Linked DNA regions of Homo sapiens: all the other regions are linked to region 5. The links come from fine-mapping of genetic effects on gene expression. A gene starts in region 5. Each other region holds a variant in brackets. All regions are shown on one strand. Distances are from middle to middle.

Region 1 (5,000 bases), 51 kb before region 5:
AACCTGGCACATAGTAACACTTAGTAAGTGAGAGAGAGGAATGACATTTCCAAGAAGCAGTGTGATACCATAAGCAATTTGGTTTTTTTTTTTTTAAATGAGATAGGGTCTCACTGTCTCCCAGGCTGGAGTGCAGTGGCATGATCTCAGCTCACTGCCACCTCCACCTCCCTGGCTCAAGCGATCCTCCTTGATCCTCAGTCCCCCAAGTAGCTGGGACTACAGGCACAAGCCCCCATGTCCGGCTAATTTTTATATCTTTGGTAGAGACAAGATTTTGCCTTGTTGCCCAGGCTGGTCTCGAACTCCTGAGCTCAAGCAATCCACTCACCTCAGGCCTCCCAAAATGCTGGGATTCCAGGCGTGAGCTACTGCACCCAGCTGACAATTCAGTATTCTAACCAAACACATATTCCAACTTTAACATATGTGAGATTTCAGTTTCCTCATATGTAAAATGAGGATAATATCCACTTCAAAGAGAACTCAGGGCAATCATAAGCAACTCTGTATATGACCATGCTCAGCCAGTGGAGGCCAGCGTCACTGTGGCCCTCCATCAGGGGACACTGAGCTCTTAGAACCAGACTTCCAGCAGGAGAGCTCCACCGCACTTTCATCACTCCCTTCTCACCAAGCAGCCTGGTTCACCCAGCTGCAACTACATTTTAGAAAAGGCAAAGCTATGAAGAGAGTAAAAAAGATCAGTGGTTGCTGGGAGTTTGAGGGTAGGGAGGGAGGGATGAATAGGTGGGACACAGGGTTTTGTTTATGGCGGCGGAACTATTCTGTACCATGGATACATGTCATTATACATTTTTCAAAACCCATAGAATGCACAGCACAAAGAATGCACCATAAGGTGAACTATGGATATTCATTAATAATAGTAATTAATAATGTACCAATATTGACTCATCAATTGTAACAAATGTCCCACGTTAATGCAAGATGTTAAGAATAAGAGAAATGGGCCAGGTGCAGTGACTCACAACTGTAATCCCAGCACTTTAGGAGGCTGAGATGGGCAGATGGCTTGAGCCCAGGAGTTCAAGACCAGCCTGCGCAACATGGCAAGACCTGTCTCCACAAAAATACAAAAATTAGCCAGGCATGGTGGTGTGCCCCTGTGGTCCCAGCTACTCGGAGGTTAAGGTAGGGAGGACTGCTTCAGCCCAGGAGGTCGAGACTGCAGTAAGCTGTGATCACACCACTGCACTCCAGCCTGAGTGATAGGCAGGTATATGAGAACTCTCTGTACTTTCATCTCAATTTTTCTGTAAACGAAAAGTGCTCAAAAAATAAAGTTGGCTTGGTTTCAAGTCTTTGCTATTGTGAATAGTGCCACAATAAACATACGTGTGCATACATGTGCATTTATCTTTACAGCAGCATGATTTATAATCCTGAAGCTGGAAACCATCATTCTCAGAAAATTATTGCAAGGACAAAAAACCAAACACCACATGTTCTCACTCATAGGTGGGAAATGAACAATGAGAACACAAGGACACAGGAAGGGGAACATCACACACTGGGGCCTGTTGTGGGGTTGGGGGACGGGGGAGGGATAGCATTAGGAGATATACCTAATGTTAAATGACGAGTTACTGGGTGCAGCACACCAACATGGCACATGTATACATATGTAACTAACCTGCATGTGCACATGTACCCTAAAACTTAAAATATAATAAAAAATAATAATAAAATAAAGTTGGCCGGGCATGGTGGCTCACACCTGTAATTCTAGCTACTTAGGAGGCCAATGTGGGAGGATTGCATTAGCCCAGGATTTTGAGACTAGCCTGGGCAAACAGAGCAAGACCCCATCTCTACAGATAAATAAATAATTAAGGTCTACTAATAAAAAAAAAATAGGCCGGGGGTGGTGGCTCATGCCTGTAATCCCAGCACTTTGGGGGGCCGAGGTGGATGGATCACTGGAACCCAGGAGTTTGAGACCACCTTGGGCAACGTGGTGAAACCCAGTCTCTACAAAAAATACAAAAATTAGTCAGATCTAGTGGCATGTGCCTGTACTCCCAGCTACTTGGGAGGCTGAGGCAGGAGGATCACTTCAGCCTGGAAGGTGGAGGTTGCCATGAGTGGAGATTGTGCCACTGCACTCCAGCCTGGGCTACAGAGCTCTAAAAAATAAAAAAATAAAAAAATAAAAATGAAGCTGGGCAAGTTCAGAGCTCAGCCTTCGGCCCCACCCAGCACCCAGGCCCATACCTTGTTGAAGAGCTTGTTGTGCAGGGCCGTGGATGCCTTCCTCGTGAC[C/T]TTGGTGAAAATCCCTGAGGAGCAGACCCCCACACAGATGAGGAGCAGGGCGTTGAGCCCGTACACCAGCTGGTAGAAGGACAGTTGAGGATTGTCTGCAATGTTGCCCAGGTCTGCCATGGTTCCATTGCTCTCTCGGCTGCTATTGGTCTTCAAGAAAGAACAGGGGGTCTGACTGCAGGTGTCCGGGGGAAATTCAGTGGCAGGGAAAGCCTTCTCCCTGGGGCCACGTGAGAATCTGTGGCTGGTAGAAGGTGAAGCTGTTTGCCCAAACCTCCCTGCTCAGCGCTTGGCTACTCTCTTTTGCCCTTCATTCCCACTGCCCTGCCCTGCATCAGGCCCTCAGAGTCTGCCCCGTGGACACTGCAGCAGCTGGGCCCTTGTGCACGCTCTGCTGTGATGCAGCGAGAAGCTTGGGAACGTGATTTCCCAGAACCCCTCCCAGCATGGTTTCAGGTCAGATTCTGCCAAGGAGAGGCACCCACAGGGAAACAGAAAGGTGGAAGAGGAGAAGCCAGCATGCTCAGTGGCAACTGTGGGCAGGAGCATGGGGTGTGGGGTTTTTCCAGAGGCTGGAAGGCATCCTGGGAATCACCCACTTCAGTTCAGCTGAGATCCCTGATGGCCAATTCCCCTCCAATGGTTGACTGAGCCTCTAATTCCCTATATTAAATCCTTGGAAGCTCTAAATACTTAGAGTGGCTTCTGCTCTCCTGACCCAAACCTCCTGGTACACGATCCAGAAATTAACCATATGGAGTACTGTGGGAAAAGCATGGCTTCGATTCTAAGCACCAAGTTCAAGTTCCGGCCCTGTCCTGTCCTAGGGCAGGTTCTTCATCCTCTCTAGGCACAGGGTCCCCTTGGAAAAATGGAGACAGTGGAACCTTCCTCTGAATGTGGGTGGGGAGATTAGTGAAATAACTTGACACAGTGTGGCCCGTGGTGGCTCCCAGCTCACAAGACCAGAAGTATATTTTAAATAAACCATAGTATGGAGGCCAGCCTGGAGCTAAAGGAGACAGTTACTGCAGTGGAATGCAAAGATTCTTGGGGCACTGTCTGGGGATATAAATCTCTTGGTTTTCCAGTAAGACTGCACAGGCGACCACCCATTCTACAAAGTCAGGAGGCCTGTGCCAGGGGAACCCCAGAGTCCTGGCTCCCCACGGTTCTCTCTGGAACACCAGCTCTGGGCTTGTCATGTGGGTCCCAAGCCATGCTCTGGCTCTTGTGGTCTCAAGGAGCAAGAAGTCACCCCACCTCACTCAAGCCCATAGAAACACAGCCCATCCACCTCATGGCACTCACCCCCGAGCCCTGCTCCAACCAGTAGCTCAGCCACCAGAAGCTGAAGATCGTTAAGAAGACGATCAGCACCACGAAGAAGAAAATTATGCAAGAGACCATGTAACCTGGGAGGGAGACAGTGGTGATGTACAAGTGCCACAAACAGGTGCGAGGCAACTGCTGACTCAGCTGCTCGGCCATCTCTGTCTTTGAGTGCTTGGAAACCCTTGAGCCCCACCCAATGTGGACACCTTGGAGGAATGGGAAGAGCTGGGTTCCAAAGTCAGAGAGCCCTGGGTTCAAATCCTGGCTCCACCACTTCCAAACCGTGTGACCTTGGATAAGGTACCAAATGTCAGCAACATACCACTTCTTTACCTATGAAATAGTGATAACCTTACCAGCTTCAGAGCCATGCTGAAGATGATATGATATAATGTGTGTGAAGCACTCAGCCCAGTGCCTGGCACAGGGCAGTGTTCTAGAGAAGTTAGTTCACCTTATGCAGGTCCTGCAGGTTCAGTTTTATAAATAATAATAACAGTTACCTTTTATGTGGTACGTACTATTATGTGCTACATGCCAGGAATAGTACCAAATGTATGCATTATTTCTGAATTAGTAATTCCTATCCCCATTTTCAATAGTGCTACTGTGTGAATGTATGTGTCTCTCCAAAATTCATATGTTGAAACCAAATTCCCAAGGTGATGGTATTAGAAAGTGAGGCCTCTAAGAGGTGACGACCATGAGGATGGAGCCCTCATGAGTGGCATTAATGCCCTTAAAAAAGAGGCTTCAGAGAGCTGCCTTCCTGGTTTTTTGTCCCTTTCACCATGTAAGGATACAACATTTATCCCCTCCAGGGATGGAGGACACAGCGTTCAAGGCGCCATCTTGGAAGTAGATACTGGGCCCTCACCAGACAAAAAACTTGCCAGCACCTTGATCTTGGACTTCCCAGTCTCCAGAACAGTGAGAAATAAATTTCTGTTCTTTATAAACTACCCAGTCTAATATATGTTGTTACAGCAGCACAAATAGGCTAATAAAATGAGGAAACTTAATCTGAGAGGGGAACTCCCTTGCCCAAACTTGCAGAGTTGGTGAGTGGCAGAGCTGGGATTTGAAGCAGTTAAGGGCAGGAAAAGGCAGGGTACACTCCTTGGGGCACTGCCTCCTGCTCTAGCACTCCTCTCATCTATTCATGCTCACATGTCCCGTGCCCACAGTCTTTTCCCAAATTCTATCCTTCCTTCAAGGGCTATCTCTTCTTTGATGAGATTTGAGATTCCCTGGCCACAGAGATCTCTCTTACCATCTGATGGAAGCAAGTCTTAATTCTCCAGCTAGATTCCAGGGTTGGTTCTTAGATGACTTTATACCCCTCCCCTCTAGAGCTTGGCACAGTGCCTGGAACATAG
Region 2 (5,000 bases), 58 kb before region 5:
CTCTATGGCTGTGGCCCTTGACTATGGTCCTCCTGGCAGCCCCACCCATGCCCAGAGTGAGTCAAACCCCCCGGCTAAGGTCCAGAAGTCTGTTTCAAGTCTTAGGCACATTTAAGTTTGAGAAGCCCTGTTCTAGGGGCTGGGCTGTGAAACCCACCTTTTAAACAACCTTTCCAGGTGATTCAGAAAGGTTTGACAGCTCAATCAGGATAGGAACGGTTAGGTACAAAGACAGCAGCCAGGAAGCCAAGAGATCAGTGTTCTCGTTCCAGCTCTGCTAACATGCATCTGTTTGGACAACTCCTTCCCTTGTCTGGGCCTCAGTTTCCCCATCTGCATAATATGCACACTGGACTCTGTCATCTGTGGGCTCCCCTTCACTCCCAGTGTCCTGTGATCCTATTAAATACCTTTGAATACAGACTTCCCAATTCAGAGCTGACCACAAGGAAACAGAGCAAAGTACCAATTTCAGAAGGCCAAGCACATAGCTCCTAAGATCACACGTGGCCAGAGCCTAAGGTGTCATTGAACACCTGAGGACCCCCTGAGTCTGCCCAGAAGCCACAGGCAGAGGATGAGCAAAGCTCAGAGAGGGCCCACACAGAGTCACCCCCTCACCTGCAGCACGATGTTGACAGCCATGACTTTAAAGGAGTAGGGGGTGGAGGAAATGCCAAAAGCCACGAACAGGGCAACAGCCAAGGTCACAAGGTTGGTCATGATCTCCAGCCTCAATGCCATCCATCGTGTGGAAGATAGAAACAACAGCAGGTAGTTATTCTGCGCATCAGTCAGCCTCTTAAACCTGAGAAGGAAAGCACAGACTAAGAACCATGTGTTTGTCTGACCTAGGGTCTCCCCGGGTCAGGGTAGATACCGGCTGCTTCCTCCAGCATCCAGTTCCCCACTCCCAGCAGCAGGGCCTGATTTTTCTTTGGGGAGTTCCTCCCTACCCCTTTCTCAGCCATGAATTTGGGTGAAGTTGACCTGACTCCTAACCCAGATTGAGGAGTAGGCTCTGCTGCTAAGGCCCATCCTTAGCACGCGCTCCTCGCCTAACCTCTGTGACTCACTCAGGGATGGGTGAGTTACCCCAAATTGGCCACAGAGAGTGAATAAATGCCAGGACGTGTGAGTGAGTGTGGGAGTGATTCCTTTCAGTGGGATGATGGGATATCTGAAACTACCATTCTGCTACTAGGAGGGGAGCCTGGAGCCACCAGAGGGTCTCTGGGAGCTTAAAGGTAAAATAACACCATGGAAGGCAGAGCAGTAAAACCGAGACACCCGGGGAACATTAGCTGAGTCTCTGGATTAAGCCTCACTTTAAGCAAGTCCTCCTCCCCAGCCTTTTGCTATGAAAATTTTTATAAGTACCAAGAGATTAAAAGCTTGATTTAATGAACATCTGTATACCCTCTAATGAAAATTTTTTAAAGTACCAAGAAATTAAAAAGTTTATTCCGTGAACATCTGTATACCCTCTACCTAATTTAGCAATTGTTAGTATTTTGCCATATTTAAGTCATATTTTTAAGCTAGTTTGCATTAGTTTTTTCTGTCACTTCCAACCAAGAAACCTACCAATTTCCAATTTTCACATACCACCATCACAGTTTTCCATGTCAATCACAACCTGTACTGTTATTTGATTAGTATTATTATTTTACTTGCTTTGTTTGAGAATGTATATTAAAAGAAACTTTAATCACAACCTTAAATTATATAAATAATGGGTTTGATATGTTAGTTGCATTTTTTCTAAAGTACATTCAAATAAACCTTTGATTATTGAAATTAAATATTCATTTACTCATCAACTAAAACCATCTTACCATCTGAGTGGGCTATCACCCCAGCAGAGTGGCCCTTCTGACTCACTCTGTCCATACCCTCTGAACCTTTGCATAAGACATTCCAAATTCTGTCCACCTTACCTTTCTATACTGATTGAGTCACCTCCACCTTGAGGCCTTCCCAGATTAAACACAACAGACCCTGGTCACTCTGTGGCCCCTGTGCTCAAGCCACCTTGCTATCCTTCAAACCTACTTCCCCCATCTCATGGTCTTTGCATTTACTGTCCCCTCTGCCTGGAGAGCTCCTACCCACATATTTCCATAGCTCAACCCACACTTCATCTCAGGGTCCTTTTCTCTGACACCTTCCCCAACAACAGCTCCAATCCCTCCAGACTCTCTTCATCTGCTTATCTTAGTATATACCTTGGGGCAGGGTTCTCAGTGTGGGCTGAATGAATGCACCGCTCCAGGATCCCCTCAGTCCTAGAGTCTGCACAGACCTTGAGTGGTCTATAATGCCACTGAGAGAGCAGGTGCCACAATTAATCCAATATTCCAGCTAACTGAGCACATACCGTCTCCCAAATGTGTGCCCAAGTCTTACCCAGGCTTCAAGGCCAGCTCAGATGCCACCTCCTCCCGAAAGCCTTATCTGATTCCCCCAGGCCACCTCCTTCCCCTCTGAATTCCCAAGCAGTTTATCTGCCCCTCTCTTATGCTATCTACCTTCTTCAATCACGTATAATTACAAAAACATGTGCCTGTTTCTCCCTTTTTCCACCAGACTATGAACTTCTTGTAGGTGAAGACCGTGCTTGATTATTCTCTACAAACAGATAAGTTCGTGTTACACCATTAAACCTCAACAACAATCACAGGACTTGTTTGCTTGTTTGTTTCAACATTTAGGGGGCAAATCTATGGCATGAGTAGTGAAGGAAGTTCTATTATTTAGAAAGCTATTGTT[C/A]CTCATTATTTTGTTAAAGATAGATATTTGTTTGGAAGTGAAAGAAATAACATAATGCAAGATGTGTTTGCACAGTAATGCACCTTATCATTAAATGTATGTATACATATGTCCATATATATATACACAATATATACAAGGTCTTTAAAGTTTACAAACATTTTTCCTATCATTTACATTTTTCATTCTTATAAATGAAAGAATGGTTCAGCAGGTTCTGGAGGCTCAGAGAAATACGTCCATCGAACAATGTGCTCTCTGATGCTTTTGAAGATGATGCCACTCCCAGACGCTCCATTCTTTCCCTGCTCCCCACCACCCCTGTGGTTCCATCATTCTCAAATGGCAGCAGAAGGACTCACTGGCTGATGAAGTCTTCAGTTTTTCCATAGACATGGATGGAGCTCAGGCCTTGCAGAGAATTGAGGATGTGGGAGAATAAAGGAGACCGGCTATAGTTCTCCAGTCTCTTGAACACACCGATGGCCTTCTTGAACATCCTGCATGGACAGTGGAGGTAAGGGACCTGGACCGTCCACCTCTGGGACCATCTAGTCTGGGTTGGTCCCAGCCTTGCTCCCCAAGTCACAAGCAAAAAGAACCTACTCACATATAATAAATGAAGCAAATAACCATGATTATGGCTCCCATTAACAGGATATATGGAGACAGCACACTGACAATCAACAGGACGGCGATCACCATTAAGGACAGGACCAGGAACTGCTCTGAAAAGATGGGCAAGAGCTGGTCCAGCTGTTCCAAGTCCCCTGCGAAGCAGTTCAAAAGCCGGCCTATTGGGATGGTGTCAAAGAAACTCATGGGGCAGCGGAAAACCTGCAGGGACAAAATCAACGCAGACCATGAGAGAAGCTGCAGGCCCTGCTCAAGATTGGATGAAGATGCCTGTTACCCTTGACTCTAAAGAGCCACGGATCCCAGGGGTCTCCAGGGCAGGCAATGTAGAGCAATGATTTAAAAGCATGGATGGGCTCCACGGCTACCTGACTCCTCCACCTACTGCTGTCTGACCTCGGGCAAGTACTGAGTTCCTCTGAGTCTCAAGGTCCTCGTTAGCGAAATGGGAATGAAAACGATGCTTCACAGAGTTGTAGTGAGGATCACACAACTCCTCAAATATACTAAACACTGAAGTGTATAATTAAAAGGCTGAATGTATGGTATATGAATTATATCCTGTAAAGCTATTAGAGAGAGAGAGAATACATTAAAAATGCTCAGAGCAGTGCCTGCCCCTGAGGTAGGAGGTGAGACTTGACTCTGGAGGCAGGGTTTGAACGCCAGACCAAATTGAGGACTAGCTAAAACAGGGGTGGGGTGGAAGCCACTTTCCATAAGACAGGCCCACCAGTGTGTCGTGTCAGTTTACCATTCCCATGGCAACACCCAGGAGTTACCGCCTCTTTCTGGGTCATCAATGACTTGATGACTTGGAAGTTGCCACCCTTTTCCTAGAAACTTCTGTATAAACTGTCCCTTAATCTACATGTAATTAAAAGTAGGTATAAATATGACTGCAAACCTGCCCTGAGCTGCAGCTCTCAGCACACTGCCTACGGGGTAGCCCTGCTCTGCAGGGTCAGTCACAGAGCTGCAACACTGCCAGAACTGCAACAGTGACACTTCAGTAAAGCTGTTTTCTTCTACCCTACCACTGGCTTGCCCTTGAATTCTTTCCTGGGCAAAGCCAAGAACCCTCATGGACTAAGCCCCAGTCTGGGGTTTACCTGCCCTCCATCACCCCCAGTAGGGCATTCTACCAATACCAGCTCTTATTATTTTCTACAGATGGGACCATTTTCACTCAGGACTGCCAAAGATTAGGAGCAGCAATCCTACTGGGTTGCACACGATTTGGACCCTTGGATCAAATTTAGCCTTAACTGCCCCCTTCTTGAGGGTGGCACCTGCAAGTTGATCTCTAACAGCCAGTGGCCATGAGGCCTTTCGGAGATCAAAGGACATGTCAAACCACAAGGTAGGCTCTAACAAAAGCATTTAGTTTGGTGTCCTTGTTTTGCAGATGAGGAAACTGAAGATTGCAGAAGAGGAAGTGGCTCTGTAACTTACTCATTACGCAAGTGGTTAATGGCAAAACCATGATCCAATTAGGCCTTCTGAGGCTTCCCCAAGCCTGGCACAGTCACTCTTCACAGAAGGCAATTTCTTAAAGGTTCATGGCACTGACCAAATGACCACCTACATTT
Region 3 (5,000 bases), 120 kb after region 5:
CCAAATGCAAATAGTTAATACTAAAATGTCAAGCTTATTAACTGTTAAACACAAAATGTACTACCTTAATTTGCTTAAATTAGCAAAACATGAGGTGAAAATGAAAATGGAAAACTTCACACAGTTACTGGTGTCCTCTGGAACCTCTCCAGAAAGCAATGATGAAGTGTGTAAAAAATAATCCCAAGAATATAAACAGAAAACATACAGGTATGTTCATGGTTTACTTATATCCAGCAAGAACCTAGGTAAAATTACAGTGAATCCTCAAACTAACAAAAATTATTTTTCCAAGATTATTAAAGTGGTGAAACACTCAGATGACCATGTTGTGTGATGAAAGGCCTACAAGGTAATACATAAAAGGGCTCCCAATATCTTTGAAAATAAACATGTGGCTGGAGCCAGCTGCTCATGCCTGTAATCCCAGCACTTCAGGAGGCCAAGGCAGGAGGATCACTTGAGCCCAAGGGGTTTGAGACCAGCCTGGGCAACATAGCGAGACCCCATCTCCACAAAAAAATTTAATTAGCCAAGCATGATGCCATACACCTGTACTCTCAGCTACGCAGGAGGATGAGATGGGAGGATCACTTGAGCCCAGGAGTTTGAGGCTGCAGTGAACCGATTGCACCATTATACTCCAGCCTGGGTGACAGAGGATGAGCATATGTACATACACATAAAAAAAACTGGAAAAATAAAAATGTCACCTGAGTGGACAGTTAAGATTACACATCTCAATTGTATGTGCAGTTTTATAATTTCCAAAGTCTACATGAACTTTATAATCAAAACACTTAATAGTAAAACTACAAAATGATATACCTCCACGAATATACCCAATATGTTTTGTTTTTTGAGCCAAGAGTCTCAGTCCGTCACCCAGGCTGGAGTGCAGTGATACGATCTTGGCTCACTGCAACCTCCGCTTCCTGGGTTCAAGGGATTCTTCTGCCTCAGCTTCCCTAATAGGGTGTGCCATCATGCCTGGCTTTTTTGTACTTTTAGTAGAGACAGGGTTTCACCATGTTGGTCTCGAACTCCTGACCTTAAGTGATCCGCCCACCTTGGCCTCTCAAAGTGCTGGGATTACAGGTATGAGCCACAGCGTCCAGCCACGTTTATTTTGAAAGATATTGGGAGCCCTTTTACATATTATAATGTAACCCTTTCACCATACAACATTAAATATGGAATAAAAGTCACTTTTTCCAAGCACACATGCTAATGAACAGACTTGAATATAAATCTGTGGTTGAACTGTTGTTCTCTTTCACCATAAAAATGGCTACGCAAGGCCGGGCGCGGTGGCTCACGCCTATAATCCCAGCACTTGGGAGGCAGGCGGATCACAAGGTCAGGAGATTGAGAACATCTTGGCCAACATGGTGAAACCCCGTCTCTACTAAAAATATAAAAATTGGCCGGGCATGGTGGCACGTGCCTGTAGTCCCAGCTACTCTGGAGGCTGAGGAAGGAGAATCGCTTAAACCCAGGAGGCCGAGGTTGCAGTGAGCCGAGATCACGCCACTGCACTCCAGCCTGGGTGACAAGAGTAAAACTCCGTCTCAAAAAAAAAAAGCTCCACAAGCACATTATAACCAGTTCAAAAGATATTTATGTAAGGAAGAGACTACACAATCATCTTTTCTGAAAATGGATAACAGAAATAAACTCTTATCCAAAATTATCCAGAATCAGTGGTGGGATAAGGGTGAAGCCCAAATTTTCATTGACTTTCTAGGCTTACAGTACCCATAAAAACCACACAAAATTCTCTTTCACCATTCAGAAGGCAATTTCAGAATCTTGCCATGTGCCTCAAAGTAATTAGCAACAGTTAACTACATGGTACTGAAGGCATAATGGTAGCTAACATTCGCTGGATGCTGATATGAGCAAAGCACTGTTTCAGGTAACATACCTGTACCCCATTTAAAGGTTTTAAGTATCTACCATAATTTAACCCCACTTTACACATTAGGAAACTGGGGCCCAAGGTCACACAGCTGGTTAGTGGGGTAGAGCCGAGACTGGCACTTAGGTGCCTGGAAGTCTGGTTGCAGAACCAAGGCTCTTAGCCACTAGGCTATGAAATAGTGAATTTATTATATCATTGTGCTTTTTTAAAGAGGTGAAAAGTGGTCAGCATTTTAGTCATTCTCCTGACAGTTGTAAGAATCAAAATGTGGGCAAGAGGGGCAGGGCATGGGAAAGACTAATCCAGAGGCCATATACCCAGTTATTTGCTGTGATTAGAGTTAAGTCTACCGCACTTAAAAATGACAACACACAGCTTTCTGCTATATAATTAAAGTATGGAATGAAACAGGAAAATAACTTCGGATTTTATCAAACTTAGAGCTAAAGCAGACACAGTAAGATTTTTTTAATTTGCCAGATATTCTTTTAATGAGAATTATAAAAGACCAAAAACATTTTTTGCAAACTGCCTTTTTAAACAAATGATTTGCTTTTAATTACAAATACTGTGCATGACGATGCCTTCTTCTGCAAAACCAATAAATACAAGAACAAATTTTAAAATATGTGATTTGTCCAAGATAT[C/T]TGAAAAAGGAAACAAAAGCCTGATTTGCAGTATTTATAAAAATCAATTTATTCTCTAACCTTTCAAAGATTAAGCTCAAAGGTGTGACTCATCTGTAGAAGACAGAAAGAGAGCACCTTATAGATGCTTTAAATAGCTTTTGATTATTTTTCCGATGTCACCTTTACTTTCTGGAACTCATGGCTTCACAAAATAGCTGATTTTAAAATATTTCTAATGAACTGATTAATGGGGGAAAAGAAAATATTGAACACGTTATAAATTTTTTACCATAAACAAATATGCATATCAAAAGATACTAACTTTAAAATGGTACAAAAAAAGGAAAAACCTGAATTACAGAAAAGTCAAATTTATTTAATGAAAAACTAAAATTAATAAAAATTAGCAAATACACACAAAAAAAGCACACAGCAGCACTATGTATTGACTCACAAAGGGAAAAGCAGTGGCCCATGACCACTCAAGATGGCTTGTCAGTTAAAGGAAAAAAACCCAAACACGCACACACCCACGCAGGCACACACTCCCACGCAAAAACAAACTTTTTCAACAATACAATCAATCTACAACAAACACAAAACTCAGAATTATTTTACAATGCTTCCTTTCTTAATACAAAAGATGCCCATCTTGGGTGTATATACATATATTTTTTCAGTGGTTTACTGTTGACTTATTTTTAAATATATTAGTGTTACTACATGCAACTGTTTCCTGTATTTAACAGCCTTTCTTTTTATTTACCTTCATGTGTCTAGCTTCCACCTACCGAAAGAGTTTTAGGTTGGCAGACAGATGGGTGCCTTATTTTCTGTGAAACTGAAGTTTTAAACACTGGCCAGAAAATGTTTGATTGCCATTTCAACACATGGAAATAGTTACATTGATGCCTAAATTGCCATTTTCTGCAAAAAGCTGTGCAATGCTGGTGTCAAAGACTAGACAGTCGCTATTCATAATGGCTGTTGCAATTCCTTCATGAATAGATCGAGGAGTCGCTTCCCAAGTCAATCGTCGCCTATGACCATTTAGCTCAAGTCGGTAAGCAAAATTTTCAGCTTGCTTGCGTGTTCCTATCAGCTGTACGATTGCGAAGAACTGCTGGTGACCATCGTATTTTTCCTGTTTCTCTAAGACTAACATGAAGTGAAAGCCAAAACAGGACTGCATCATCACCCAGTCAACAGCACCAGGAAGATTAATGTCTGTAGCAAGAAAAACTATATCCTCTCCCTGTAGGGTTGTAATGGACTTATGCTGATGCATCAGATGGGGCATTACAGCATCCAGAGAGCCTTGCCATTTACAGGAAGCACCAGGGCACGGACAGGAATAAGGCCTAAACTCACAGAGCTCTTCATGGTCTGCTTTTTCTGTGTGTGGCAGAGTTATTTCACATCCAGAAGACGCATATTTACAGGGGAAAAGTACTGAATTAGCCACTTTCTCCATAGCCAAGTTGCGAATGGATCCCAAAGGGCCCCGGCAAGTTGGACAACATGTGAGCTTTGGGCGACAGTTGCTACAAACAAGATGGCCACTCTGACATTGAAGAATGGGCGGTAACACATAGTCAAAGCAGACTGGACACTCAAAAAGACTCGCCAAGTCATTGTTGGATGCAGTTGTGCCAGTCAGGGCAGGCACCCTCTGGGATGGTGGACACTTCGAGGTACCGGTAGGTAATGCTGTAGCAGTCTGACGGCTCATTTCTGAAATAAATACATAAGGAGGCAGGAGAAAAATAATTATAACCATGACTTACTTTATAAATAATGTTTACATGCCATAAGTCCTTTTAAAGTTTCATACAAAATTTACTGAGCAAAAGAGGAAGAAAAATAGGATTAAAAAAGATATTAAAAAAATAAAATTACACTGAATGTGCACTTTATTAGGATCTGTACACTGGATAAGCTCTCTTTTCAAAATGTTCCGGAAAACATGTGGAACTCCCTTAATCGTCTTTGGATAGACTACATAGAATAATAAATGCTAAAATAGAAAATGGACCATAAACAACTAAAGAAACTATACAAGGAACTGAAGTTTAATCGAATCCGTTTTGCTAGGACTCTCCCTGAGGCTCCCTTACTCTATTTCTTTCTAATTTGGAGTCAGCTGTTGATAGGTACAGGGAGTTACAGGTGAACTCCTGTATAAAATCGGCACTCTGTATCCACACGGTCTGCATCCGAGGACTTCACCAGCCATGGATTGAAAATATTCAGAAAAATTTATAAAGAATACAAAATTTTTAAAATACAGTCTATAACAACTATTTACATATTGTTTACATTGTATTAAGTAATCCAGAGATCACTTAAATTATACAAGAGAATATGCACATACAAATATGACACCATTTTCTATCAGGGACTTGAGCATCCTCAGGTTTTGGTATGGAGAAGGGGGTCCTAGAACT
Region 4 (5,000 bases), 98 kb after region 5:
GGTGGGACCCAAAGCACCAGTGAGGAAATGGCTTTTGTTGGGAGAAGGGATACCTTTTGCAGGATATTATGTAGAAAGGGACAAGAATATTGAGTTATTTATAAGGAAAAGATTATAATGATGGGGCTAACGTGTGTGAGCTGCACAAGAGAGGAGTGAAGTTAGGGCAGAGCTGCTGTATGATGGGAATGTGCTGGAGTTCATGGCTTGAGTACAGGCGAGCTAGAAGGATAAGAAATGATGGTCAGGGGTTTCAGAGGTAGCATGGTTTCTGTTGGTGATAAGTACCTGGAAGAGGGTGGCTGAGTTCAGGAGGCATTTAAAGAACTGAGAAGCCAGGTTCTGGGAGAGCATCATGCCTTCACTGAAGACACCCAGGGTGATAGCAGGGGCTGGGGCAGAAAGGAAGGAGCAGAGTTTAGAATCTTCCTGAATGTCAGAGACAGTGAAGAGAGAGTCAGGATGGTAAAGCCAGCTGCCATAAGCAGGGGCTCAGAAGGGTAGAAGAATAAGGCCTGAAAGTTGCAAGGCAGCCTCTTACTGACTAAATTTTAAACTTAGTCTCTTTGAGCTTGATGTCTTCCTCTGATAAATGGTGGTAAGCATGTGCACGTTATCACAGAGTTCAAATTTGGTGAGTCAGTGTACCCACTGCATTGCCCAGTAATACTAAAAAAGAAAAAACAAATACTAATTTCTGCAACTACCATACTCCCTAAAAACAGAGACCTACCCCCAATCACCAAAAAATCCCCATTGTTTTTCTAATCCAAATTTTGTACATATTTAATAACCTTATACCACCACTTACTATTTTTTTACTTTCATCGAAGATGAATCTACAAAAATATATTAATGTCAAAAAATATTACTGACCTAGCAAACTGGCAGTTGGGAAGTAAGGTAAGAAGGCACACTTTTATTAATTAATAATATCTTTTGTATTCCCTAAACAGATTGAAAAATGATGGATTAGTTCATTCTTGCATTCCTATAAAGAAATACCTGAAACCAGGCACAGTGGCTCACGCCTGTAAATCCCAGCGCTTTGGGAGGCCAAGGTGGGCGGATCGCTTGAGTTCGAGACCAACCTGGGCAGCAAAGTGAGACCTGGTCTCTACAAAAAATACAAAATATTACCCGGAAGGCTGAGGTGGGATCCACCTGAGCCCAGAAGGTTGAGGCTGCAGTGAGCTGTGATCACACCATTGCACTCTAGCCTAAGTGACAGAGTGAAAACTCTGTCTCAAAAAAAACAAAGAACCACCTGAGACTGGGTAATTTATAAAGAAAAGAGGTTTAATTGGCTCACGGTTCTGAAGGTTCTAAAGGAAGCATAGCTCCAGCATTAGGCCAGGTGCATTGGCTCACACCTGTAATCCCAGCACTTTGGGAGGCCAAGGGCAGGCGGATCATGAGGTCAGGATTTCGAGACCAGCCTGGCCAATATGGTGAAACCCTGTCTCTACTAAAAATACAAAATTAGCTGGGCGTGGTGGCGCACACCTGTAGTCTCAGCTACTCGAGAGGCCGAGGCAGAAGAATCACTTGAACCCAGGAGGCGGAGGTTGCAATGAGCTGAGATCGTGCCACTGCACTCCAGCTTGGGACACAGAGTGAGACTCCATCTCAAAAATAAATAAATAAATAAATAAATAAATAGGTCCAGCATCAGCTTCTGGGGAGGCCTCAGGAAACTTACAGCCTTGGCAGAAAGTGAAGGGGGAGCCGGCATGTCATGTGGCCAGAGCAGGAGCAAGAGTGCAGGAGGGGAGGTGGCCACATGCTTTTAAACAACCACCTCCCACAAGAACTCACTCACTATTGCGAGGACGACAGTACCAAGGGGATGGGGCTAAACCATTCATGAGAAATTTCCCTCCGTGATCCAGTCACCTCCCACCAGGCCCCACCTCCAGCACTGAGGATTATAGTTCAACATGAGATTTGGTGGAGACACAGATCCAAACCATATCAAATGGGTTCTAGGAACTTAGCCTAGATTTCAGATTTAGGAACAGTATCATAGGTCACCTTTTCAAAATACATAAAGTTTCCTACAGAAACAATATCAATTAAGTGCATGTTTTAAAAATAAAAATAAAGGTTACTACAAAAAAAGTGGGGAGGAGCAGGAGTGGGTGCAGGTGTCCCCAGGAAGCCTAGGCATAGCTCACACTGCATGTGCTATCACGGC[A/G]AGACTCAGAACTGCCCCGAATCCGAGGAGGGGCCATGCGAGTAGGTGGGCCTAGGCACCTCCTCAGTCACTGGCTGTGCCCTTTCACTCTGTCACTGGGAGACAGAATCCTGAGTTTTCTGCTTCAGGGAGCCTGCATGGAAAGAGTAGGTCACTGCCGGAAATCAGGCTAGTTTTAGCAAAAGGAACGGACATTAGGCACCTCCAAAGGGACAAAGGACCAATATACCTGGTTGGGGACAGGATTCTGTCATTTGATTATTCCTGACTCATGTTTTCATGAGGTAGTCCCCCACCTCATATAAAAGCCTCAGTGTTGGCTTCTGACCATGGTGTATGAAAAGCCCTTGTCTAAAGGTTACTGCCCTGAGAAAATAATAAAGGAAGAAGAGGATAGACATGAAGACACTTTAAAGCCTCCTGAATAGAATGCATCCAGAAGCGAATTCCAGGAGATTCTGTCATCATGCTTGCCTTTCAAGCAAACAAAATTAGCTGCTAGAACTGAGAAAGAGTGTAAACACCAACTAAATGCCTCAAAGAATCATGGTAGTAAATTACTTCTCCATGTTGCTCCATATAAACCTGCTGTGCCACCTGTTGAAGGCAGCACTGATGCTGCATGTTCAGTCTGGTCCAAGGCCCCAACAGGAATCCGTTGTGCCAAGAAAAGGCCCTACTGGAAGGATTGGAGAGCAGCTGGTTCTCAGCAATGCAAGCATCAGGCCAGGCTGGGGCTGCTTAATGCTGCTTAAGAGATGACAGTGGTGGACCCCAACACCTCTCCAAGGGATGTAGAATCTGCTTTTCCCATTTCTGAATGCTACTGAAACAAATCTACAACTAGAAAAATCAAATATTCATGAATTCAAGACTTGGGATCTCAGTACTAAGACTTTAAAGAAGTTGCCAGATGGATCGCTTCTGTGGTGACAGCCCTGGCAGGAGCATTCAAGTGCTCTATGAGCTACAAAAGAAACCAGTTGATGGTGTGAACACCACTACAGAGCAACCTGCACACCACAGCAATTTGACAGCTCAGGTTCTGTGTCTCATGTGGCACCGTGCTTGTCCTTGGAAAGAAGGCCTACAAAATTCTTCATATCTCCATTCCTTGACATCTGCTGGCAAACTCCCACTCATATTTTAAGACTCAGCCTCTCCTGTGACACCTGTGTCTTCTCTCCAAACAGGGAGGGACGCTTGCCTCTTCAGAGCTCCCCACACTGGAGTATAACTGCTCCTGTGTCTGATGCCCTTAGTCTCAGTGCCAGGAGGTATTCATGCTTATGTCCCCATGGCCTGTAACAGAGCCTGCATCAGGATGCTTGGTAAAGGACTGTTGAATGAATGTCAAATATGGGTCCCTCTGATGGGTCTATACGTGTTGATCTAGGATTGGAAGGGTCACAAAGAGTTGTGCATGCTTACAATTTCAATCAAATATCACTATTTTTAGTTAAGAGGGAAGAGTAGTGTGAAATTGGCAATAATTAGATACTCCAAATGTTCTTTAAAAACTAATAGCATTGATGTATTAAGAATGCAATCAGCCGGGCACAGCAGCTCACACCTGTAATCCCAGCACTTTGGGAGGCTGAGGCAGGTGGATCATGAGGTCAGGAGTTCGAGACCAGCCTGGCCAAGATTGTGAAACCCCCGTCTCTACTAAAAATACAAAAATTAGCCGGGCATGGTGACGCACACCTGTAGTCCCAGCTACTTGGGAGGCTGAGGCAGGAGAATTGCTTGAACCCAGGAGGTGGAGGTTGCAGTGAGCCCAGATCGTGCCATTGCACTCCAGCCTGGGTGACGAGCGAAACTCAGTCTAAAAAAAAAAAGAATGCAATCATACATTAGAAGACACATTCTGTTTTAGATTTTTACTTAAATATTTTAAATACTTCCTTAATCTGCATATTTACCTTATTGATAGATTTCAGAAGAAATTGATCATTTCATGGAACAAGATTTATTAGACACATAAGGAAAGTGAATCATAACAACTGTACAGGTGGGAAATTGAACAACAAAAATGACCCTGAGATACCCACATTCTACTTTGGCATATAGTGGGAAAAACATTCTAGACTTCAAGTCTAGGCCTATCTTGGCTAATGTAACCGATGACTTCACAAACCATTTATGGGACTAGAAGCTGAAAGGAAAGTACTGGTGGATAAACATCATATTGAAATTATGTTGAGTCACTTATTTGCTATAAAACACAAATTGTTTTGTGTAAAGGGGTTAAGATGGCTGGAAAACTGTCTCCACTCAAGAGCAAGAAAGCAGCATGTGTCTTACCCTGTACCTTCATTTTTACTTGTACTTCATAATTTCTGAGGGAGAAATACGTGGAAACCAGATGCTTGATATAGTTTCAGAACACGTCCTTAAAGAATATGACTCCAAGTCTAAGAATTGTAGGTCCTTTGCTTCTTAGATAACTACTGTTAGCCTTGATCACAGAGATTCCAGGTTTAATAACTTCAGTTCTCCCCACTGTGTATATAGATGTTAAGTTACACAGATTTGGCATTATTCCCATTTTCAGGTTAATATCAGAACACTTGTTATCAAGTCAGGATAGTAATTGTGAGCCTAGATGCTCTAGGTTTGGCCATACGTGGTTATCTACACCACCAACTGTTCCAATTAACAATTTACCAGTTGCTTCTACCCAAAGTACCAAGACTCCAGCAAATGGGGAATATTGGAAACTGGCTTGGCTTCTTGAAGCAACATGGTAATCAATAAGAATCTTGGCTGGGCATGGTGGCTCATGCCTGCAGTCCCAGCA
Region 5 (5,000 bases):
AATCAATATCGTGAAAATGGCTGTACTGCCCAAGGTAATTTATAGATTCAATGCCATCCCCATCAAGCTACCAATGACTTTCTTCACAGAATTGGAAAAAACTACTTTAAAGCTCATATAGAACCAAAAAAGAGCCGGCATTGCCAAGACAATCGTAAGCCAAAAGAACAAAGCTGGAGGCAACATGCTACCTGACTTCAAACTATACTACAAGGCTATGGTAACCAAAACAGCATGGTACTGGTACCAAAACAGAGATATAGACCAATGGAACAGAACAGAGCCCTCAGAAATAATACCACACATCTACAACCATCTGATCTCTGACAAACCTGACAAAAACAAGAAATGGGGAAAGGATTCCCTATTTAATAAATGGTGCTGGGAAAACTGGCTAGCCATATGTAGAAAGCTGAAACTGGATCCCTTCCTTATACCTTATACAAAAATTAATTCAAGATGGATTAAAGACTTAAATGTTAGACCTAAAACCATAAAATTCCTAGAAGAAAACCTAGGCAATATCATTCAGGACATAAGCATGGGCAAGGACTTCATGACTAAAACACCAAAAGCAATGGCAACAAAAGCCAAAATTGACAAATGGGATCTAATTAAACTAAAGAGCTTCTGCACAGCAAAATAAACCACCATCAGAGTGAACAGGCAACCTACAGAATGGAAGAAAATTTTTACAATCTACCCATCTGACAAAGGGCTAATATCCAGAATCTACAAAGAACTTAAACAAGTTTACAAGAAAAAATCAAACAACCCCATCTAAAAGTGGGCAAAGGATATGAACAGACACTTCTCAAAAGAAGACATTTATGCAGCCAACAGACACATGAAAAAATGCTCATCATCAGTGGCCATCAGAGAAATGCAAATCAAAACCACAATGAGATACCATCTCACACCAGTTAGAATGGCAATCATTAAAAAGTCAGGAAACAACAGGTGCTGGAGAGGATGTGGAGAAATAGGAACACTTTTACACTGTTGGTGGGACTGTAAACTAGTTCAACCATTGTGGAAGACAGTGTGGCAATTCCTCAAGGATCTGGAACTAGAAATACCATTTGACCCAGCCATCCCATTGCTGGGTATATACCCAAAGGATTATAAATCATGCTGCTATAAAGACACACACACACGTATGCTTACTGCGGCACTATTCGCAATAGCAAAGACTTGGAACCAACCCAAATGTCCATCAATGATAGACTGGATTAAGAAAATGTGGCACATATACACCATGGAATACTATGCAGCCATAAAAAAGGATGAGTTCATGTCCTTTGTAGGGACATGGATGATGCTGGAAACCATCATTCTGAGCAAACTATCGCAAAGACCGAAAACAAAACACTGCAAGTTCTCACTCATAGGTGGCAACTGAACAATGAGAACACTTGGACACAGGGTGGGGAACATCACACTCAGGGGCCTGTCGTTGGGTGGTGGGGAGTGGGGGGGAAGGGATACCATTAGGAGATATACCTAATGTAAATGACGAGTTAGTGAGTGCAGCAAACCAACATGGCACATGTATACATATGTAACAAACCTGTACGTTGTGCACATGTACCCTAGAACTTAAACTATAATAAAAAATAAAATTAAATTAAAAACAGAAAAAAAATAAAAGTATCAAGGTTGTAAAAAAAAAAAAAATTGGACGGGCGCAGTGGCTCAGGCCTGTAATCCCAGCACTTTTGGGAGGCCAAGGCGGGCAGATCACGAGGTCAGGAGATTGAGACCATCCTGGCTAACATGGCGAAACCCCGTCTCTACTAAAAATACAAAAAATTAGCCGGGCGTGGTTGCGGGTGCCTGTAGTCCCCAGCTACTCGGGAGGCTGAAGCAGGAGAATGGCATGAACCCGGGAGGCGGAGCTTGCAGTGAGCCGAGATCTCGCCACTACACTCCAGCCTGGGTGACAGAGCGAGACTCCGTCTCAAAAAAAAAAAAAAAAAAAAAAAATTGAGGACTTGCCACAGATTAGAGAACACCTAGGAGATTTCATAACAAAACACCTAGGAGATTTCACAACAGGATCCTGGATATTGGATCCTGGACCAGATCCAATGAAGGACATTAGTGGGAAAACTGGCAAAATTTGGGTAAGGCCTATAGGTTAAACGATAATAATGTTAATTTCCTGGTTTTGATCATTGAACTATGATTATGTAAGATGATAACAGACGAAACTGGGTGAAAGGTATATAGGAACTCTGCTGTAGTTTTGTACATCTAAAATCAATTCGGGCCGGGCACGTTGGCTCACGCCTGTAATCCCAGCACTTTGGGAGGCCGAGGTGGACGGATCGCTTGAGGTCAGGAGTTAAAGACCAGCCTGGCCAACATGGTGAAATCCCCTCCCTACTAAAAATACAACAATTAGCTGGGTGTGGTGGCGGGCATCTGTAATCCCAGCTACTCGGGAGGCTGAGGCAGGAGAATCGCTTGAACCCGGGAGGCAGAGGCTGCAAGCCGTGGGTATCGCGCCATTGCACTCCAGCCTCCGCGACAGAGCGAGAATCTGTCTCAGAATAAATAAATAAATAAATAAATAAATAATTAGTTCGAATCAAAAGTTAAAAACACTTCAAGTATATGTAAAAAATCGAAGAAAACGTTAAAAACACTTCAAGTATATACAATTCAAATAAGATCATCCTTCCAAATATACTCTGTAAGTGAGGCGAAGGTCGCTGCACGCTTGAGTGCACGTCTTTCCGCATAGGTAGGACGCTCAAGTCTTACCGGGAGGCTCTCCTAGAGAGCAGCGCGAAGCCATGGCTTTTGGGCCCGGGGACGGACCGTAGCGCGTAGCCGGAAGCGGAGGCGTGGAGGCGGGTCTGAGGTTTGGTGACTGCGGGGCAGGCCGGGGGCAGCTGTCTGTCTGGCTCTTTTTGACAGCCCCCAGTGCGAAAGGCTGCCAGCATGTCATCAGTGAGCCCCATCCAGATCCCCAGTCGCCTCCCGCTGCTGCTCACCCACGAGGGCGTCCTGCTGCCCGGCTCCACCATGCGCACCAGCGTGGACTCGGCCCGCAACCTGCAGCTGGTGCGGAGCCGCCTTCTGAAGGGCACGTCGCTGCAAAGCACCATCCTGGGCGTCATCCCCAACACGCCTGACCCCGCCAGCGACGCGCAGGACCTGCCGCCGCTGCACAGGTAGGCCTGGCTGCCCCCGCGGCGGCGGCGGGCGGCGCGGCCTCCTCCGGGGACCTGGGCCCAGGCCACGGCCTGCCTTGAGCGCGAGGCTCAGTTCGGGGCGGCCTTCGCGGCTCGGTTCCGCCTCTCTGGTGCTATCACTTGCAAAATGGGGATGTCAGATACCTGCCCCATGACCATGAATGAGATCGTTCATGAAGTAGTGCCTGACACCTGGTGAAACTACGCAGTTCCCTACCGTTCTGGATAATTTAATTTGAATCCTCTTCCCCCTCTCCGCAATTCCTCGCCCTCGGTCTTCAGCCTCCTAGGCCAGTGCTTTTAACTTTCCAGGCCCTTTCTTTCTCCCCGGTGATCTCTGCCTTCACTTGCCTTCGCTTTTCACCTTTCTCCCCACTGCCCTTTACTCCTATCCGCCTCCCCTTTTCTGTCACCCATCATTTTTGTCCGCTGAGGCATTCTCTGCTCCGTGAGTTTTAACTTTTCCTGTTTCATTCCTAAACTGCACTATTTGTGGGTGCCTTTCTTCTATACTCCCTGCCACCCTTCTCCTTCTCCCCCTAATCCTTCTGTTTCCCTTTGTAAAGGGCCTTTACTGCTCACATTTTCGCTGGTCCCCCTTTCTGGAACTTTCCTAGCTTCTCACCTCTGCTCCTTCACTCATAACATTTCTTAGGCCCCAGGCTTACTACTATATTGCCCAGTACCCTCGCCCTATTGGTGTGACTTTGGGTGAGAGCTTTAACCTCTATTTCTTTTATTCTGCAATTTGGAAACTGACAGCATCCATCTCTTAGGCAAGTTATGAAGAATAAATTGAATAATGTGTATATTCCACTTTGCACCATGCATGATGGATGACTTTGCTGTCCAGTACTGTGTAGTGCATGTGGCTCGTCAAATTGAGATGATAGAATTGCCAGTTGTCCTGGTTTGCTGCGATTGTCTGTTTTAGCATTGAAAGTCCTATGTTTTAGCCCCTCCGTCCCAGGGAAACCAGGAGGTTGGTCACCCTAAATGTGCTGTAAGTGTACAATACACGCCAGATTTTGAAAAAACTTTTTGATTAATACATTTTATATGGATTAAATGTTGGAAAGGTAATATTTTGAGTACTTGGGGTTAATAAAATGTTAAGATTTCTGCTGTTTTTACTTTATAATGTGGCCACTAAAATTTTATATGTGGTCCACATTATATTTTTATTGGACAATGCTGGTATATCGTATGCTCTCAACAAGTATCTTCAAACTCACCTGCCAAGCACCCGCCTCCTATTCCTAACTCTACTGGAGGTGTTGTGTTTTCAGTTTAGAGCTTCTCCTTTCCTGGCAGTTATCCCTTATTTTTAAATTAGGGGTTCCTGACTCTGAATGGATTTCCGGAGGGTTGGACATGTCTTATTTTTCCTCAAAATCTTGTGACTATGTACATTTTTTTAGGAGAATCCTTTGCTTTCTTCAGATTCTCAAAGGAGACTGGTACCTCCCCCCACCCCCGTTAAAAGAAAGCAAAACAAAGCAACAAAGACCAACAAACCTTCCACAGCAGCCCAGTATTCATTTATATTGTAAAAGCCTTGATTTTCTCAAGCATGGAAAATATTTTGGCTCCCATCTGACCTGCTTTGGTTATTGCCTGAGTGGAATTGGTCACATTCCAAGTTTCAGTACTCTTTGATAAATTGTATTGGATTCTAGTTTCCCAACATACGACTCTGCTCCTTCTGCTTACTTTTCCCAAATTATTTTGCCTTCTGTGCCCAGGCACACTTAGTTCCCTGTCTAGGCAAGAGTGGTCATTATTAGACTTCATTTT

The links. PIP is the estimated chance that this variant, and not a neighbour inherited with it, causes the effect.
Region 1: its variant is fine-mapped to the expression of LONP2 in monocytes after LPS (Fairfax 2014, PIP 0.91).
Region 2: its variant is fine-mapped to the expression of LONP2 in nasal epithelium (TOPMed, PIP above 0.99).
Region 3: its variant is fine-mapped to the expression of LONP2 in whole blood (INTERVAL, PIP above 0.99).
Region 4: its variant is fine-mapped to the expression of LONP2 in whole blood (INTERVAL, PIP 0.90).

The regions. Positions count from the first base shown.
Region 1 is chr16:48,190,282-48,195,281 of GRCh38, forward strand. It overlaps ABCC11 (ATP binding cassette subfamily C member 11), which reads right to left. Exons shown (of 30, transcript NM_001370497.1): 19 at 3,598-3,701; 20 at 2,239-2,436. Among named protein-coding and RNA genes, the nearest start is that of ABCC12, 37 kb to the left of the region's middle. The variant C/T (reference allele first, on the strand shown) is at 2,287.
Region 2 is chr16:48,183,819-48,188,818 of GRCh38, forward strand. It overlaps ABCC11 (ATP binding cassette subfamily C member 11), which reads right to left. Exons shown (of 30, transcript NM_001370497.1): 21 at 3,383-3,609; 22 at 3,135-3,272; 23 at 622-808. Among named protein-coding and RNA genes, the nearest start is that of ABCC12, 30 kb to the left of the region's middle. RefSeq lists a silencer at 4,620-4,914. The variant C/A (reference allele first, on the strand shown) is at 2,773.
Region 3 is chr16:48,358,144-48,363,143 of GRCh38, forward strand. It overlaps SIAH1 (siah E3 ubiquitin protein ligase 1), which reads right to left. Exons shown (of 2, transcript NM_003031.4): 2 at 2,388-4,287. The coding sequence starts at 4,285. The coding sequence ends at 3,437. It also overlaps a transcript of LONP2 not described here. Among named protein-coding and RNA genes, the nearest start is that of SIAH1, 25 kb to the right of the region's middle. The variant C/T (reference allele first, on the strand shown) is at 2,572.
Region 4 is chr16:48,339,669-48,344,668 of GRCh38, forward strand. The region is part of intron 12 of LONP2 (lon peptidase 2, peroxisomal); the gene reads left to right. Among named protein-coding and RNA genes, the nearest start is that of SIAH1, 43 kb to the right of the region's middle. The variant A/G (reference allele first, on the strand shown) is at 2,198.
Region 5 is chr16:48,241,440-48,246,439 of GRCh38, forward strand. LONP2 (lon peptidase 2, peroxisomal) reads left to right here and starts at 2,861. Exons shown (of 15, transcript NM_031490.5): 1 at 2,861-3,182. The coding sequence starts at 2,950. The region is part of intron 1 of ABCC11 (ATP binding cassette subfamily C member 11); the gene reads right to left. RefSeq lists an enhancer at 2,797-2,886.